Regions from separate parts of the Homo sapiens genome. Here regions 2 and 3 are each linked to region 1. The links come from fine-mapping of genetic effects on gene expression. A gene starts in region 1. Each other region holds a variant in brackets. All regions are shown on one strand. Distances are between the middles of the regions. Region 1 holds the start of TIMM17B (translocase of inner mitochondrial membrane 17B). Region 2 has its middle 10 kb from the start of PAGE1. Region 3 has its middle 24 kb from the start of TIMM17B.

What was found. PIP is the estimated chance that this variant, and not a neighbour inherited with it, causes the effect.
Region 2: its variant is fine-mapped to the expression of TIMM17B in lung (TOPMed, PIP 0.99).
Region 3: its variant is fine-mapped to the expression of TIMM17B in lung (TOPMed, PIP 0.98).

What each region holds. Positions count from the first base shown.
Region 1 is chrX:48,893,620-48,900,113 of GRCh38, forward strand. TIMM17B (translocase of inner mitochondrial membrane 17B) reads right to left here and starts at 4,149. Exons shown (of 6, transcript NM_001395498.1): 1 at 4,105-4,149; 2 at 3,140-3,239; 3 at 1,419-1,482; 4 at 478-606; 5 at 281-391; 6 at 1-198. The coding sequence starts at 4,130. The coding sequence ends at 110. It overlaps PQBP1 (polyglutamine binding protein 1), which reads left to right and starts at 4,311. Exons shown (of 7, transcript NM_001032382.2): 1 at 4,311-4,463; 2 at 4,873-4,957. The coding sequence starts at 4,891. RefSeq lists enhancers at 3,665-3,814, 3,845-4,044, 4,335-4,704, 4,755-4,974.
Region 2 is chrX:49,703,139-49,709,632 of GRCh38, forward strand. No RefSeq gene overlaps it. Among named protein-coding and RNA genes, the nearest start is that of PAGE1, 10 kb to the left of the region's middle. The variant C/T (reference allele first, on the strand shown) is at 2,972.
Region 3 is chrX:48,870,194-48,876,687 of GRCh38, forward strand. No RefSeq gene overlaps it. Among named protein-coding and RNA genes, the nearest start is that of TIMM17B, 24 kb to the right of the region's middle. The variant C/G (reference allele first, on the strand shown) is at 3,392.

The DNA.
Region 1 (6,494 bases):
AGAAACCCTCTCTGGAGGGTCCCAGGGCTAACTGGGAGCCAGCCCTCCCTTCGAGGTAGACCATCGGGGAGGGAACCGAGAAGTAGCTCCCATGGTGGCAGTGGCTTCCTCAGTGGTACTGCTGATAGCTGGGGTAGCCTGGGGCCGGGGTGCCATCCTTAGGGGGCAGCTGGCTGGGGTCCTCCAGGAATGGGGGCGCTGGAGAAGGGAGACTTGGGTAAGGATGAGTGGAAGAGGCCAGGTGGAGTATTTCCCACTCCCCCGACCACCAGTTACTCACCATTTCGGAACTGCTGGGCTGTGTAGCGAGTGAGGAGGATGCCAACGCCCTCAATGAGGGCCAACAGGATGCCCCCCATCATTGCTGAGCCCACCATGGCCAGTGGGCCACCTGGGGGAGTTGGAGGCAGAGAAACAGAGGTGAGAGCAGGCAGAACAGGGTGGAAGGGGCTGGGGCCAGGGCCAGGGGTCACTCACTGCGGGCAGCCAGCACAGCCCCGGTCAATGCTCCACTGGTGATAGAGTTCCAGGGATCCTCCTTGCCCCGAAGCCGCACCAGGCCACAGTCGATGGTGGAGAACAGGCCCCCCCACACTGCGAAGCTACCTGTAGTGGAACCGAGGCCTAATTAGTTCCTGGGAAATCCTGAGAATTCACATCTCAGGGGACTTCCAAGGCCTGAATGCTTTGGCCAAGAACAGGGAGAAAAACCCAGACACAAAGGCAGATAGCAAACCCACACAGAGTATTTCCTATCTGTCCCCATCCTGTGGTAGCTCCCACTTCAAGCCGTCTATAATCACCATCAACATTCCCTTCATCTTTATGGGGAGTTGACAAATGTTTACAAGCAGATTTATCTTCATATGGCTTTTAACAGAGCAACTTTGAGCTTCATAATCACCACACAGAGTTGGAATTCTGATTTGGGTTTCAGTGAGAAGGAAATAGGTTAGGAAACCCAGTTAATATGATAGTTAAAATGTTTACTGAGGGCTTACTGTGTGCCAGGACCTGTTCGAGGTGCTCTGTTATTTAACTTCTGCAATTTTAAATTAGTTAATGTTATTAAAGTGTTTAGCATAGCAACCAGCACTTAGTAGTATGTAAATTACATAAACTATAAAACTACCGATGAAGTGGTTACTGTTATCACCACCCCCACGGTACAAGTGAGGTTCAGAGAGGTTAAGCCACTAGCCCAAGGTCACATGGCAGGGAACAGTCAGGACCTAGATTTAAACTCCAGAACCCACTTTCTTCCCCTCCATATTCAATTGTTGGGAAACATCACCCCCCTAGAAAGTCTCTGGCAGGGGCTAGAATCTGAACCCCTAACTTGCAGCCTAGACCCAAAGGATCAACCACTCCCACCTTTGCCAAGACATCTCCTATATCTATCTCCCCAAGTCCCTCACCTCCAATCTGGGGGGCTCGGATCCTCACAGCATTGGCACTACCTCTCAACCGGTGCCGAATTCCCTGGGGAAAGGAAGGAAGGGCGTTAGGGCAGGGCTGAAGCCACTGGCAGACACGTTTCCAACTTTTAAGAGAGGGAAGAAGATGGGAGACCTGTTAGAGGTATGAGCTGTAGAGATGTGGAGAAGTGGCCAAGAACTAGTGGCCTGGAGAGCGCCCCAACATGGGTGTTCTCAGAGCTAGGTTGAGAAGTGCTAATTCATTCATACATTTGTTCATTCATTCATTCAGTGAATGATTAACAAGTACCTACTATATGTGCCAAGCACCATGCCATATGCAGGGATACAGCCATGAACAAGGTAGGTCTGCTCTCTGCCCTCTCAGAGCTCACATTAACGGTGGGAGACACAGATCTTGAGCAAGAGTAGATAAACAAGGGAGCTTCAGACAGCAATCTGCACTGTAGAGGAAATGCCATGAAGAAATATGACTGGGGCTGAGGGGTCAGGAAAGGCCTCTTGAAGGAGGGGGAATCTGTGCTGAGACCTTGAGGATGACAAACTTGGGCAAAGATCCAGGGAGGAGAGTTCCAGGAGTCTAGGGGAGGGACGGGGCTACATATATAAATTGCAGAGACCTTGGCTAATAGATGGCATTTAAAGTCATGGCATTTGCGATCTTCTGGGAGGGGAGGTGGTCAGAGAAAAAGAATTATGTTAAAAGAATTCTCTCAACTTCAAGGCTGTCTTCCGTCTGCCAATTAAATTCCTGTCATTTTCCTCTATCCGGGTTTCTGAGCCAGAATCTGCCTCTAGGTAAAATGCGCAGTGGCTAACACCTGTAATCCCAGCACTTTGGGAGGCTGAGGTGGGTGGATCACTTGAGTTCAGGAATTAGAGACCAGCCTAAGCAACACGTTGAAACCCCGTCTCTACAAATAAATAAATACATACATAAATAATTAGCCGGGCATGGTGGCGCAGTCCTGTGGTCCCAGCTACTTGGGAGGCTGAGGTGGGAGGATCACTTGAGCCTGGGAGGCGGAGGCTGTAGTGACCCATGATCAGGCCACTGCACGCCAGCCTGGGCAACAGGGCAAGATGCTGTCTCAAAAAAAAAAAAAAAAAAAAAAACATGGCCAGGCACAGTGGCACACGCCTGTAATCCCAGCACTTTGGGAGGCCGAGGTAGGTGGATCACCTGAGGTCCAGAGTTCAAGGCCAGCCTGGCCAACATAGTGAAACCCCATTTCTACTAAAATTACAAAAATTCGTCAGGTCTGGTGGCACATGCCTGTAGTCCCAGCTACTTGGGAGGCTGAGACAGGAGAATTGCCTGAACCCAGGAGGCAGAGGTTGCAGTGAGCCAAGAGCGTGCCACTGCACTCTAGCCTGGGCAACAGAGCAAGACTGTCTCAAAAAAAAAAAAAACTGTCTGGCTTTGCACATACATTTAAAATTTGGTGATGACTCTTTGAACGACACAGCATTTCCACAGAGGAGCTCCAGTTGGGTGGGGTGGAGGGTGGAAGACAGAGGCCATGTTTGCAATCCCTACAAAATCCCAGATACAGGAGCCAGGCTCGGCACATAGTAGGTGAGTGGGCACCAGAATGAATAAGTGCACGTGACTGGCAGCTCCAAGCAGTTTTCAGAGCAGCCTCCCTTGTGGGCAAGATAGCTAACCCCACACCAACCCAGGGAAGGCCTGGACTCACAACAGGGGCATTGCGGAAACCCTTGATGGCCTGGAAGACTCCGCCACCGATGACACCCATAGTGAAGGCTCCACCGCAATCATCCACAATTCGCCATGGGCTGCAAGCAGGAAGGGAAGGACGGGGTTAATGTGAGCCCTCCCCCAGGTCCTGTCACACGAACTCTTTTCTAACTGGGAGAAACCAAGTCACCAGAATGGGAAGTTCCTAAGTAGGAACAAACACTTCAGATAATAATGAGCTAGTTCTGTCACGCTTTTTCCACACACCCCCCCATTAAAGCGAGAAATGGGGCAAAGGGGGAGAAATATTAGTCTTCGCCCTGTCTACCAACCAAGGAATCAGCCAACGGTTTTACTGTGATCAAAGATTAAATGAATTGGCACACGCAGAGTTGACGTTTCAATAAGCGACATAGGCGTGTTAACTAGCCAAGACAGACTGTCAGCAAAGCAGGACCGCGTCGCACCCCTTCTCCGACGGTGAGCCCGTCCAACCATGCCCCGCCCCTTTTCAATCCGGCACAACTGGGAAAAACCAAGAGCGACCGCGGGAAGCATCCACCGTCCCCGCCGGCCCTCAACAGGTTCATCCGTGCCCCGCCCCCCACTGACAAAGGCGACCTGGGAAAAACCACTGGCGGCAACTCTGGGGATTTCCGGTCAACACCGTACCACCCCTAGCCGGGATGGATCGTCCAGCGTGTCTTTTTTCGTTAACAGGGCTAGGAGATTACGAAGTCAGGAGAAACATGGCGTGGTTCGGCCTTCGCCGCACCTTCTCTGGTTGTGGCCCCTCATAACGGAGCCCGAATGACAGGAACCGAGTGGGGGTAGCGGGAGATACGTTAAGAGTCCCCCGAGTCTGGTACATGGCTCTGTGCGGCCGATGCCTCCCCCGCCCGACCCCCACGGCTGGCCTTGGCGTCGCAGCAATATTCCGGATGCCTGTGCCCATTGCCGTACCAGGGCTCCCGAGCGTACTCCTCCATGGCGCTGGCGTCTGGCCGCGCAGTCAGGCCACGCCCCCAGCGTAGACGCACACCGGCGTCGGAGCTTTCCGCCTATTACCGGGCAGCGATTGGGTCGCTATACCGCATGTCACGCCAAGGACGCACTCTCATTGGCCAATCGAGTTTCTGCCATTTGTTCATTGCCTCCTGAGCGTAGTCCAGTTACTTTCAGGCTCGGGGAGTGAAGGCCTCGTTGAGAGAAGGTCTCATTCGGTGTTTTGGGAAGAGAGTCGTGTGGGCCCAGGTATCGTAGCGGCGACACGAGAGAGACGGGCGGTGTGACAGCCTTCCACTACCTGCACGAGTGTATTGGTAACGTTGGGGTGGGTGCACTCTTTTGGAGCTGGAGGAAGTGCTGCCCTCTGCTCCCCCATCCCAGCGCTTTGGTTTCTCCCACCCGGCAGTCATGGGGACGCTGGATGAGCCCATTTCTGAAGTGCGGAGGGGCCGGGCTTCTTAGGCTGTGGGCGGAGCCTGGGCCTGGGAGAGGAACAGGGCCCTGGAGCACCTGGTTTCGGGGACAGTAGGGTTGGTGGGAGTTGCGATGATATTGCCACCTACCTCTTACATCTTTTAGTGCGTATGTTCTGTCCACCCAGCTACTGGTTCATTTGAGTAGATCGGAGTCAGATGAGTACATGTTTACGGGAGGCGCTTGGTTACGGGATCCAGATAGGAATCTTTATCTGAGCTGCTTGTCAGTTTGTTCGTCTGTCCCTAGGTCTGTCTGCTATCAGCTATGCCGCTGCCCGTTGCGCTGCAGACCCGCTTGGCCAAGAGAGGCATCCTCAAACATCTGGAGCCTGGTGAGACAGCTAAAAGCAGATGGTCCTAACACGTGCCAGCCTCGACAGGCACTTTTGTTGTTGATACTGACGCTTGATACCTAGCATGGGCCAACTGTGCACCAAGCAATGGGGTGGCAGGCATTTTTCGTTGTTAACAATGTGGATTCCTGACATCCATCCCTACCGCGTGTCAAGTGGAGGGGGTTGGGGGAATAGATATTTCATTCTTTTTTTTTTTTTTTTTTTTTTTTTTTTTTTTTTTTTTTGAGGCAGAGTCTTATTGTGCACCCAGGCTGGAGTGCAGTGGCGCGATCTCGGCTCACTAAAACCTCCGCCTTCCAGGTTCAAGCGATTCTCCTGCCTTAACTTCCCGAGTAGTTGGGACTACAGGCACGCCCCGCCCCACCACACCTGGCAATTTTTTTTTTTTTTTTTTTGAGACAGAGTCTCGGTCTGTCGCCCAGGCTGGAGTGCTGTGGCGTGATCTCGTCTCACTGCAACCTCCGCCTCCCGGGCTCAAGCGATTTTCCTGTCTCAGCCTCCCAAGTAGCTGGGATTACAGGCACGTGATACCACACCCGGCTGATTTTTGCATTTTTAGTAGAGACGGGTTTCACCATGTTGGCTAGGCTGGCCTCTAACTCCTGACCTCAGGTGATCCACCCCCCACCCTTGGCTTTCCAAAGGGTTGGGATTACAGGCATAAGCCACTGTGCCCGGCAGATATTTCATTCTTAACAATACTGACTGGCTGGGCGTGGCGGCTCAAGCTGGCATTCCCAGCACTTTAGGAGGCTGAGGCGGGTAGATTGCTTGAGTTTAGGGATTAAGAGATTAGCCTGAGCAACATGGCAAAACCCCGTCTTTACAAAAAATACAAAAATTAATCGTGTGTTGTGGTGCATGCCTGTAGTCCCAGCTACTTGGGAGGCTGAGGTGAGAGGATCTCTTGAGCCTAGGATGTCAAGGGTGCAGTGAGCCGAGATTGTGCCACTGCACTCCAGCCTGGCCGACACATGGAGACCCTGTCTGAAAAAAATCCAAAAAAAACAACAAAATAATACTGACCACCTAATGCCTATTTGGGGCCTACTGTATGCCAAGTTAAATCCCATGGATTACTCTATGGGGGTGATGACATAGTATCTAATAGGAAGTACTGCTAACCTCTACTGCTGTCTCCTGTGTGCCAAGCGTAGTTGCAGTGAGGATCTATCATTTAGGCCTACTGTGCTCTGGCTGCAAATCACACCTTATTATCAGTAATACTAAAAACTGGCATCTATTTGGGGCTATAGTGTGCCAGGCACTGGAAAATATATCTTCTCCTTATTGATAACTGACATCTATTACAAGCCTACTGTGTGCAAGGTATAGACCTTGTGGTTAATAAAATTGTCAATGATCCCAGGCCGGGCAGGGTGCCTCATGCCTGTAATCTCAGCGCTTTGGGAGGCGGAGGTGGACGGATCACGAGGTCAGGAGATCGAGACCATTCTGGCTAACAGGGTGAAACCCCATCTCTAATAAAAATACAAAAAACTTAGCCGGGCGT
Region 2 (6,494 bases), 810 kb after region 1:
AATAAAGCAGTATGCTTGCCTCAGAAGCCAATTAGAGGCTTTTGCCTACAAAAGCAATTATAATGCAATGCTGTCTGTGAAGAGTGCTATAAAAGGTAAAAACCTTGCAATCGAGTGGTGAGCAAATTAATCTGGGAAGTCTTTGCAGATTTAATCTAGACCTTGAAAACTGGAAACGGCAGTGGCAGGTTGATGTGTTCTGTGTAGGTTTGGAGGGTAAAGGTGGAGGGAACGGGCTGTAGTACATTCAGCATAAACAAAGGTAGAAGCCAGAAAGAGCAAGGAATCTGTGAAACTGGGAGCAAAGTGGTATTTTCTAACATGGTTGGAAGAGAGGATGTGAGAGAACAGAGACTAGAAAGACAATGCCAATAACAAATAACTGAAATAATAATAACTATTATATTTTGCCTGCTTTGTATTGGCACTGTGCTAAGTGCTTTTCACCCATTATCTCATTTAAAGCACACAACTCTTGCAAGTAGGTATTGTTATTTCTATTTTATAGATGAGGAAACTGAGGAACAGATAATTTATATAACTCAAGATTTCAATCTGGGGCAGGGGTGAGGGTGTCCAATCTTTTGCCACATTGGAAGAAGAAGAATTGTCTTGGGCCACACCTAAAATACACTAACACTAACGATAGCTGATGAGCTAGAAAAAAATTGAAAAAAAACTCATAATGTTTTAAGAAAGTTTACAAATTTGTGTTGGGCCAAATTCAAAGCCATCCTGGGCCGCATGTGGCATGAGGGCCATAGGTTGAACAAGCTTGCTGTACGGTATTGCCTATAACATGTGCTGAAGAACTCTGTTGGGGCATCAGAAGGGAGCTGAGATGGAGGGTTCTGATTACCTGGTGGGCCTGACTCTGCTCCTCCTTACCTTCATGCACTCTTACATTAACTGTCCTCGCCCTCCTTTGTCCTTCTGCAGTTTATTCAAATTGTGAAGTCCCACCATAGCCATGTTCTTGACGTATTGTGCCATGCGTGTATTTTATCTCTCTGACTCATCTTCTGTTTCCTTAAAGGAAGGGATCTTGTCTGTCCTTTCATATCTTCCCCAGGGCGAGGAACTGAAAACACATATGATGGTTAATTGATTGATTAGGATTTCACTAAGCATTCCACTTAGGCACTTACCTACCTGTAATGCTTGTTGACTGCTTGATTGAACACCTTCCTCATTAACTCCATCTGGACAGGCAACTTTTCTGCATATGTGCCAGATCCAGTGCTAGGCACTGTCACTTTCATGATTTCACTTAATTCTCTCTAGATGTGTACTGTGCATTCCCATTTCACAAGATGAGTAAACTGAGGTTCATTGAGGTTAGGTGGCATGTTTCAAAGAATAACTCAAAGGCATATTGTTAGTTATTATCAAGCTAACTTACTTGAATACAAAATACTAATAACAGATTGATTTCATCTAACAAAGGATTTATCTACAAGGAAGAAGAAGAGAGAGGTAAGAAGGAAAACCACAGGCATATTTGAAAATGGTGAACCCTGCTTTCCTCTTGCTGGGCGAACTGGTGACCAGCAAGGGGCCAAGTGGGCTGTTCTGCCCTTGGACAGCAGACTAGGTCCTCAAAGAAAACAAATTCGGTTGTTTATGGGTTCCCCATAAGGCCTCGGAAGTTTAGCTATGAGCAATGTGTGACAGGCTGTCTCTGTGTTTTGGCTGTCACTGTCTTTAGTTAACACCTTCATCTCAGCTATGTCATTTGGGCACCAGCTCCCTTCCAGAATTTCTCAACTACTGCCTCAGTCACTCAGCAACCAAGCCGGGCTGACTATGAAGGTTTCAGGTTCCTTTTGACTCTGATCATGGGTTAACTGTTGTTTTGAGATCCTGGCTGTGCAGGCACATTTAGGCAGTTGGAGTTAGACGGTGGAGGAGGGCAAAAAGCCTAAGTTCAATCATAATAATAAATATCGAAACTCACTTCATGTCCAATGTTTTAGTTTCCCAAAGCCCAACCAGGAGAGCAATTTGGGCTTCGTCAAACTTGCCAAAGGATTAGTTTGGCCAATATTAGATAAGCAAGTGGCTTTTTCATTCATTCATTGATTTATTGCCCCATTTCTCCTGAAGTATTTATCCAGACATAATAAAATGTGTCACCCATTGCCCCGACTTCACCTTGGCTTGTGAGCAAATAAAAATTCTAAGACTCCAGCTTGGCTGGTGAGCAAATAAAAATTCTATCTGATAGATTTACGCTTAAATGTTCTGCTTCTAATGCTTGAGCTATTTCATTTGCTATTTGAGCCAAAGTCTGATATAAATTGTGGATAACATGATCTATTTCAGGAACTCCTGCTCAGAGTATAAATCCTTGCACAAATCAGTAAAATACAGTATCATGGATACCTCCTGGTAAGGTAACATGTCAAAATATTAATAAAATAAGATCACTGGGAGGTTCTGTTTTGAATGTTTGGAAAGGCTGAATGAATATACTGAAAGTGTACAGCATATTTTAATGCAGCAAGCATAGAAAATCCATTTTATTACACCCAAAGAAAGTCCCAGAAGTGCACATTGAGAAGGCATATATGTGTTGTTTATGGTAGGTACCACTTATTGTCTGAATTTAATAGATCTGATTGTTGACGAAAACACTCTAGAGTTAAATAAATCATTTATATAGTTTTTGTTTAGATTTGTGGTAAAATAATTGGACTATAGTTTGCATCATTAGTCTCATGCCTATCCTATTCTTGATATTTCCCCAGTTTCTTTGAAAGTTCTTGGAAATATCAGAAACAACAGTTAATTGTTAATGACCTAGTGTCAAGTTAAGGCATATAGATGTCTCAAGGTTAATATTTCTGTATTGAAGATAGAAGGGAATGACATGGTCAGTCTTAGGGTGAAATCTGATACCATTTAGTCCTATAGGCATGGGTATAAGGGTCTTACTAGAACATCTGGGGCTGGATGAGAAATCCAGCAG[C/T]TGAAAAGATTGGCTGTTGTTGCAGTTGTTTGAGAAAGGCAAATTCACAGAGTTTCTGGAAAATGAAAGTGTTAAAAAAATGGAAAAAAAAGAGTAGGGTGACCATTTTAACAATCTAGTATCTTGAGATACCACAAAATAAAAACAATAAAGGGAAAAAGAGGAGTCAAATAATAAAATGAGGGTCTGTTGCCCTGATTCTGGATCTTAACTAGAAGGTCTTGGGAGAGGGCTCTCCACTTCAGGAAGTCTTTGCTTATGCAGTCCTTTTTGATGACTCTCAGAGTTAAGTCTCTAGTGGGACTGGAGAGATGTCTCAGTGGTAGGATACTTAACACACTGACACTGGCTTGCATGTACCCATGGCTACACAGTCTGGAGTTAAAATGTAGTACTTGTAGTTAAAAGGACCTGAAATGGTCTTTTCTAGTGTGCCTCTTCTTCTTCTTCTTCTTCTTCTTGTTCTTCTTCTTCTTCTTCTTCTTCTTCTTCTTCTTTTTCAGAGACAGGGTTTCATTCTGTTGCACAGGGTGGAGTGCAGTGGTGTGATCATAGCTCACTGCAGTCTTGAACTCCTGGGCTCTAGCAATCCTCTGCCTCAGCCTCCTGAGTAGCTGAGACTACAGTACACACCATCATGCCCAGCTAATTTTTAAAGTTTTTTGCTATGTTGTCCAGGCTGATCTTGAACTCTCAGCCTCAAGTGATCCTCCCACCTTGGCCTGCCCATCTAGTACAACCAACTTTCATCAGTTTCTCTTCCAGCATCTCCAGTCTCCTGACTACAAATCATGTAAGGGTATAGCTGGTAATATTCTCTTTGAAAATGCAGCTTGCACCTGTTGGGCATATGATGTCATTTTTGACAATATTTGACAAGCTTGAAGTGTTTACAAGGTGGAATCCGATAGAGGAGGAGTCATCACAGTCTCATGGGTCTTCCTGGAATTGTTTCAAGGGGAGAGCCTGTTAAGATTTTGAGATGAGATGACTATTGCCTATCGTTACAGCTGATGGTTAGAGTTTAGGTCAGGAGAGATTAAACTCTTCTGAGTATTATGAGAGATCATTGGCCCATTCTATTTTGCAAAAACTTAGTGAGTGGATCAATGTGAGCAAGGAAGTTTTTGTTTTAATGGGAGTACTTTACACAGTTTCTTAAGTATTTCCACCTGTAAAGTGAAATTTTCTATCACTAGAGAGTAATATATGTACTCTATCACTAGAGAGTAATGCAGGTGGGAAAAAACAATATCTATCAATCTATTATCTATCTATCTATCTCTATCTATCTATCTATCTATCTATCTATCTATCTATCTATCTATCTATCTATCTTTTCACCTTTTAGCAAGGGAAAACTTTAATCCAAGTATAAACCTAACGCACCATTATAACTGAATGAAATCCATTTGGAAATGTTCAAATGGTTTTTGAGGCAAAGGTTCTGAACTTTGCCTTTTTCTGCAGCTTTTCCTGGGTCATGATAACAACAGAGAAGGCAAGATTTGGCCACCTGTCTCAAGGAAGATTTTTCTCAGCGAGATTTTTGAAAAATTTGAGCAATTTGTCATTGTGAATAATTTCACAGAGAAAGCACTAAAGGTCTGGAGATGGCCTCTGGTGACATTAAGCACTCATCCTGGCAATGCCAAAGCCCATTATTGCACATGTGACAGTTTGGAGAAGGCCACTATTTCTTTTCTTCTGAAGTGGCAGGTTATCATATTTGAATAAGTCATTCAGGATTCATTAAATCAGATTGAGTAAGTGTCTTTAGAATACCTACTGTAGCAAGAACAGAAAGGACTGCTTATTTTACATAATAGTCAGAAATTCCCTTTTGCTTTAAAAGTACTACCTTTAGAATGAGTTTCTCCATTTCTAATCTATACTTCATTTGGATGTTATATTGCCTCTTATAAATTACTTTTTTTTCCATTTTAGTTGGGGTGCCTGGTGAGATTAGAAAACCTCTTTGTTTTCATAATGTACTAAAAAAATCATGAGCAACTCCAAAGATACATCTATTTGTATAGATGTGTACTCAAGTGTTTAGCAAGGTGACATGCTGGTGATGTAACTGTCATTCAGCTATTTGAGTGGAGTGAGCTATTGATAAAGAACAGCTATAATAGCAGAATAGTCAGAACTTATGGCATAGCCAGCACAAAATATGCTTCGCTTATTCTCAAGATATGAGCCATCAACAAACATCATATCAGAGTTTTCTAGCCAGTGGTTCTCAAGGTTTTCAACCTTTAGCATGCGTCAGAATCACCTGGAGGGCTTGTTGAACTACACAATGCTGGTTTCCACTTCCAGAGTTTTGAATTCAGAAGATCTGGAGTGGGGCCCAACAATGCGGATCCCAGAAAAAGTGCCAGATGATGCTGAGGCTGCTGGTCTGGGGACTATACTTTGAGAGGCATTGCTGTAGAAGAGCATCAAGTGTCAGGCTGAAGAATACTGAGAGTTTAAATAGCTGCTAGACATTCATGACATTCAGTCATTCAAAAGAGGAAGTAGGATATCAGCACTTGGATTAGAACAATATTTAACAGTTTTGGGTGAAGCAGAACATAACAGAACTTCATAGAAGGCAATGAGACTGGCTGACAACCATTGAGTGTTATTCTGAAGTAATAAGATTTCTACTCCTCAGGAATCTCTAGGGTGAGGGAGAGGCAAAGAAGATATCTGCTGGAGCTTCCACCAATCTAGCTGCTGCCCCATGGCATATAAACAGGGGGGAACAAGCCTCGGCCACACGGCCAGAGACATAAGTGATGATCTTATGATAAGCTCCTGATTTTTGAGTAAGCTCATCAAAACGAAGTCTTGCCTTTCGTAGGAAGAGCTTAGCAGAGTTGGGAATGCTCAAAATTGGGTTTGTTGCAAGGCTTGCTTAAGGGACGAAAAGCCCTGCTGTGATCTGAATCCCAAAGCAGGTTCTCTAGAATACTGGATTTGTAGGGGAGGAAAACTAATTTTCTCTCTACCCTTTGTTGACAAAAAGAGTCAAACTGTGTAAAATATTTGAAGAGATTTATTCTGAGCCAAATATGAGTGACCGTGACCTGTGACACAGCCCTCAGGAGGTCCAAGAACATGTGCCCAAGGTGATAGTGGTACAGTTTGGTTTTATATATTTTAAGAAGACATGAGACATCAATCAAATACATTTAAGAAATACATTGGTTTGATTCAGAAAGGCGGGACAACTCAAAGCATGGGGGTGGGGGAGGGGGAGGGGAGGGGGAGGGGGACAGGGGGTAAGGGGGTGGGTGGGGATTCCAGGCTATAGATAAATTTAAACATTTTCTGATTGACAGTTGGTTGAGTTTGTCTAAAGACCTGGGAACCTGGGATCAATAGAAAGGAAACAGTTTTATAGTGGCTGCCCTTAGAGACAATAGATGAAAAATAATTCCTATTCAGATCTTTAAAAGGTGGTAGACTTTAGTTAATCTCTTTAGGATTGGGAAGGCCTGGAAGAAAAAGATCTAGCTATGTTAATAGA
Region 3 (6,494 bases), 23 kb before region 1:
TTGGATAAAGAGTCAAGACCCATCAGTGTGCTATATTCAGGAGACCCATCTCACGTGCAGAGACACACATAGGCTCAAAATAAAGGGATGGAGGAAGATCTACCAAGCAAATGGAAAACAAAAAAAGGCAGGGGTTGCAATCCTAGTCTCTCATAAAACAGACTTTAAACCAACAAAGATCAAAAGAGACAAAGAAGGCCATTACATAATGGTAAAGGGATCAATTCAACAAGAAGAGCTAACTATCCTAAACATATATGCACCCAATACAGGAGCACCCAGATTCATAAAGCAAGTCCTTAGTGACCTACAAAGAGACTTAGACTCCCACACAATAATAATGGGAGACTTTAACACCCCACCGTCAACATTAGATAGATCAACGAGACAGAAAGTTAACAAGGATATCCAGGAACTGAACTCAGCTCTGCACTAAGTGGATCTAATAGACATTTACAGAACTCTCCACCCCAAATCAACAGAATATATGTTCTTCTCAGCACCACACCGCACTTATTCCGAAACTGACCACATAGTTGGAAGTAAAGCACTTCTCAGCAAATGTAAAAGAATGGAAATTATGACAAACTGTCTCTCAGACCACAGTGCAATCAAACTAGAACTCAGGATTAAGAAACTCACTCAAAACTGCTCAACTACATGGAAACTGAACAACCTGCTCCTGAATGACTACTGGGTACATAACGAAATGAAGGCAGAAATAAAGATATTCTTTGAAACCAACGAGAACAAAGACACAACATACCAGAATCTCTGGGACACATTCAAAGCAGTGTGTAGAGGGAAATTTACAGCACTAAATGCCCACAAGAGAAAGCAGGAAAGATCTAAAATTGACACCCTAACATCACAATTAAAAGAACTAGAGAAGCAAGAGCAAACACATTCAAAAGCTAGCAGAAGGCAAGAAATAACTAAGATCAGAGCAGAACTGAAGGAGATAGAGACACAAAAAACCCTTCAAAACATCAATGAATCCAGGAGCTTGTTTTTTGAAAAGATCAACAAAATTGATAGACCGCTAGCAAGACTAATAAAGAAGAAAAGAGAGAAGGATCAAATAGAAGCAATAAAAAATGATAAAGGGGATATCACCACCGATCCCACAGAAATACAAACTACCATCAGAGAATACTATAAACACCTCTACGCAAATAAACTAGAAAATCTAGAGGAAATGGATAAATTCCTCGACACATATACCCTCCCAAGACTAAACCAGGAAGAAGTTGAATCTCTGAATAGACCAATAATAGGCTCTGAAATTGAGGCAATAATTAATAGCTTACCAACCAAAAAAAGTCCAGGACCAGATGGATTCACAGCCAAATTCTACCAGAGGTACAAGGAAGAGCTGGTACCATTCCTTCTGAAACTATTCCAATCAATAGAAAAAGAGGGAATCCTCCCTAACTCATTTTATCAGGCCAGCATCATCCTGATACCAAAGCCTGGCAGAGACACAACAAAAAAAGAGAATTTTAGACCAATATCCCTGATGAACATCGATGCAAAAATCCTCAATAAAATACTGGCAAACCGAATCCAGTAGCACATCAAAAAGCTTATCCACCATGATCAAGAGGGCTTCATCCCTGGGATGCAAGGCTGGTTCAACATACACAAATCAATAAACATAATCCAGCACATAAACAGAACCAACGACAAAAACCATATGATTATCTCAATAGACGCAGAAAAGGCCTTTGACAAAATTCAACAACTAAAACTCTCAATAAATTAGGTATTGATGGGACGTATCTCAAAATAATAAGAGCTATCTATGACAAACCCACAGCCAATATCATACTGAATGGACAAAAACTGGAAGCATTCCCTTTGAAAACCGGCACAAGACAGGGATGCCCTCTCTCACCACTCCTATTCAACATAGTGTTGGAAGTTCTGGCCAGGGCAATCAGGCAGGAGAAGGAAATAAAGGGTATTCAATTAAGAAAAGAGGAAGTCGAATTGTCCCTGTTTGCAGATGACATGATTTATATATCTAGAAAACCCCATCATCTCAGCCCAAAATCTCCTTAAGCTGATAGGCAACTTCAGCAAAGTCTCAGGATACAAAATCAATGTGCAAAAATCCAAGCATTCTTAAACACCAATAACAGACAAACAGCCAAATCATGAGTGAACTCCCATTCACAATTGCTTCAAAGAGAATAAAATACCTAGGAATCCAATTTACAAGGGACGTGAAGGACCTCTTCAAGGAGAACTACAAACCACTGCTCAATGAAACAAAAGAGGATACAAACAAATGGAAGAACATTCCATGCTCATGGGTAGGAAGAATCAATATCATGAAAATGGCCATACTGCTCAAGGTAATTTATAGATTCAATGCCATCCCCATCAAGCTACCAATGACTTTCTTCACAGAATTGGAAAAAACTTCTTTAAAGTTCATATGGAACCAAAAAAGAGCCCGCATGGCCAAGTCAATCCTAAGACAAAAGAACAAAGCTGGAGGCATCACGCTACCTGACTTCAAACTATACCATAAGGCTACAGTAACCAAAACAGCATGGTACTGGTACCAAAACAGAGATACAGACCAATGGAACAGAACAGAGCCCTCAGAAATAATGCCGCATATCTACAACCATCTGATCTTTCACAAACCTGAGAAAAACAAGCAATGGGGAAATGATTCCCTATTTAATAAATGGTGCTGGGAAAACTGACTAGCCATATGTAGAAAGCTGAAACTGGATCCCTTCCTTATACCTTATACAAAAATTAATTCAAGATGGATTAAAGACTTAAATGTTAGACCTAAAACCATAAAAACCCTAGAAGAAAACCTAGGCAATACCATTCAGGACATAGGCATGGGCAAGGACTTCATGTCTAAAACACCAAAAGTAATGGCAACAAAAGCCAAAATTGACAAATGGGATCTAATTAAACTAAAGAGCTTCTGCACAGCAAAAGAAACTACCATCAGAGTGAACAGGCAACCTACAGAATGGGAGAAAATTTTTGCAATCTACTCATCTGACAAAGGGCTAATACCCAGAATCTACAATGAACTCTAACAAATTTACAAGAAAAAAACAAAAAACCCCATCACAAAAAGTGGGCAAAGGATATGAACAGACACTTCTCAAAAGAAGACATTTATGTAGCCAAAAGACACATGAAAAAATGCTCATCATCACTGGCCATCAGAGAAATGCAAATCAAAACCACAATGAAATACCATCTCACACCAGTCAGAATGGTGATCATTAAAAAGTCAGGAAACAACAGGTGCTGGAGAGGATGTGGAGAAATAGGAACACTTTTACACTGTTGGTGGGACTGTAAACTAGTTCAACCCTTGTGGAAGTCAGTGTGGCGCTTCCTCAGGGAT[C/G]TAGAACTAGAAATACCATTTGACCCAGCCATCCCATTACTGGGTATATACCCAAAGGATTATAAATCATGTTGCTATAAAGACACATGCACATGTATGTTTATTGTGACACTATTCACAATAGCAAAGAATTGGAACCAACCCAAATGTCCAAAAATGATAGACTGGATTAAGAAAATGTGGCACATATACACCATAGAATACTATGCAGCCATAAAAAATGATGAGTTCATGTCCTTTGTAGGGACATGGATGAAGCTGGAAACCATCATTCTCAGCAAACTATTGCAAGGACAAAAAACCAAACACCACATGTTCTCACTCATAGGTGGGAATTGAACAGTGAGAACACATGGACACAGGAAGGGGAACATCACACACCAGGGACTGTTGTGGGATGGGGGGCGGGGGAGGAATAGCCTTTGGAGATATACCTAATGTTAAATGACGAGTTACTGGGTGCAGCACACCAACATGGCACATGTATACATATGTAACTAACCTGCACGTTGTGCACATGTACCCTAAAACTTAAAGTATAATAATAAAAAAAAGGATAAAACAAAACAAAACAAAAAAACATTTATACACATTCTGTTTAGTATATACCCAGAAGTGGCATCACTGAGTGATGGGTGTGCACATATACAGCTCTAGTAGAAACTGCCGGCTGGGCATGGAGACTTATGCCTGTAATCCCAGCACTTTGGGAGGCGAAGGCGGGTGGATCACCTGAGGTCAGGAGTTCGAGACCAGCCTGGCCAACATGGTAAAATCCCATCTGTACTAAAAATACAAACATTAGCTGGGCGTTGTGGCGAGCGCCTGTAATTCCAGCTACTTGGGAGCCTGAGGCAGGAGAATCACTTGAACCCAGGAGACAGAGGTTTCAGTGAGCCAAGATCTTGCCACTGCACTCCAGCCTGGGTGACAAGAGTGAAACTCTGTCTCAAAAAAAAAAAAAAGAAAGAAAGAAAAAAGGAACTATAAAACGGTTTTCCAAAATAATTGTTGTATCCATTATGCTCCCATCAGCTGTGAATGAGACATTCTGTCTCTGGAAATGCTTACCAACAGTTGGTATTATCAGATTTTAAATTTTTTCTCTATCTGGGGCTGGGTAGCGGTGGCTCACACCTATAATCCCAGCACTTAGGGAGGCGAAGGCAGGCAGATCACCTGAGGTCAGGAGTTCGAGACCAGCCTGGCCAACATAGTGAAACCTCGTCTCTACTTAAAAAGTACAAAAATTAGCCGGACATGGTGGCACATGCCTGTAGTCCCAGGTACTCAGGAGGCTGAGGCAGGAGAATTGCTTGAACCCCGGAGGCAGAGATTGCAGTGAGCCGAGATAGTGCCACTGCACTCCAGCCTGGGCAACAGAGCAAGACTCCATCTCAAAAAAAAAAATCTTTTTGCCTATCTGATAGACAGGAAATAACATTTTGTTCCTTTAATATACAGCTCTCTGATTTAGTGTGAGCATATTTCTATATATTTATTGGCCATTTGGGTTTCCTCTTATGCAAAATGTTTGTTCATAACCTTTGCATACTTTTTGATTGGGCGTCTTGTCTTTCCCTTAAAATTTTTTAGGAGTTCTTTTTATATGAGGGGTCATCTAAAAGTACACGGAAAATGCATTTGGTGAAAAAAACTATATGCATGGATTTCAAATGTTTTATAGTTTTTTGTTGTTTTTCTGTTTTGCTTTTTTCCTTCCTATTTTTGTTTTGCTTTTATTTATTTATTTTTGTTTTTTCTTTTTTGAATTTCAATTTTTTTTTACACCAAAATAAATCTGTACTAACTTGTTATAACATGTCTGAACAGGATCTGGTTTGAGGGGTTAAGAAGGATAAGACATCAATTTGAAAAGAGCCTCTACCAGAGCCACATGAATTCTGCTAATACTGAAGCAAGAACAAAATCAAATTTATGGTGATGGTTGGGTGGAAGAATGGTGAAAAATCATTGATGCTTTCTGAAAAGTTTATGGGGACAATGCCCCCAAATAAATCAGCAGTTTACAAATAGATAACTCAGCTTAAGAATGGGCCAGGTGTGGCGGCTCATGCCTGTAATCCCAGAACTTTGGGAGGCCAAGGCAGGCCAACCGCTTGAGTCCAGGAGTTTAAGACCAGCCTGAGCAACATGGCGAAACCTCATCTCTACAAAAAAATGGAAAAATTAGCCAGGCGTGGTGGCACGTGCCTGTAGTCCCAGCTACTACTCGGGAGGCTGAGCTGGGAGAATCACCTGAGCCAGGGTAAGTTGAGGCTGCAGTGAGCCATGATCATGCCACTGTACTCCAGCCTGGGTGACAGAGTAAGAGTCTGTCTCAAAACAAAACAAAACAAAACAAAAAACAGAAGCCAATAGCAAGATGAATCACATGCTGGAATTATCTGACAAGGATTTTAGAGTAGTCACCATAAAAATGAGTCAATAAGGAATTACAAATAAACTGGAAACAAAAGAAGAAATAGAAATTCTTTGGCCAGGTGCGATGGCTCACAACTGTAATCCCAGTACTTTGGGAGGCCAAGGCGGTTAGGACGTTTGAGTCCAGGAGCTCAAGACCAGCCTGGGCAATATGGTGAAGCCCCACCTCTACAGAAAATACAAAAAGTAGCCAGTTATGGTGGTGTGCACTTGTGGTTCCAGCTACTTGGGAGGCTGAGCTTAGGAGGATCGATTCAGCCTAGGAGGTTGAGGCTGCAGTGAGCTGTGATTGCACCACTGCACTCCAGCCTGGGCAACAGAGTGAGACCCCATCTCAAAAAAAAATTATCAACATATAGATGATATAGAAAAAGAACCAAATAGAAATGATAGAACTAAAAATTATAAATGAAAATTAAAACTGGCCTGGCGCGGTGGCTCATGCCTGTAATCCCAGCACTTTGGGAGGCCAAGGTGGGTGGATCACCTGAGGTCAGGGGTTTGAGACCAGCCTGGCCAACATGGTGAAACCCTGTCTCTACTAAATATACAAAAATTAGCCGGGCGTGGTGGCGGGCACCTGTAATCCCATCTACTGGGGAGGCTGAGGCAGGAGAATGGCTTGAACCAAGGAGGCGGAGGCTGCAGTGAGCCACTG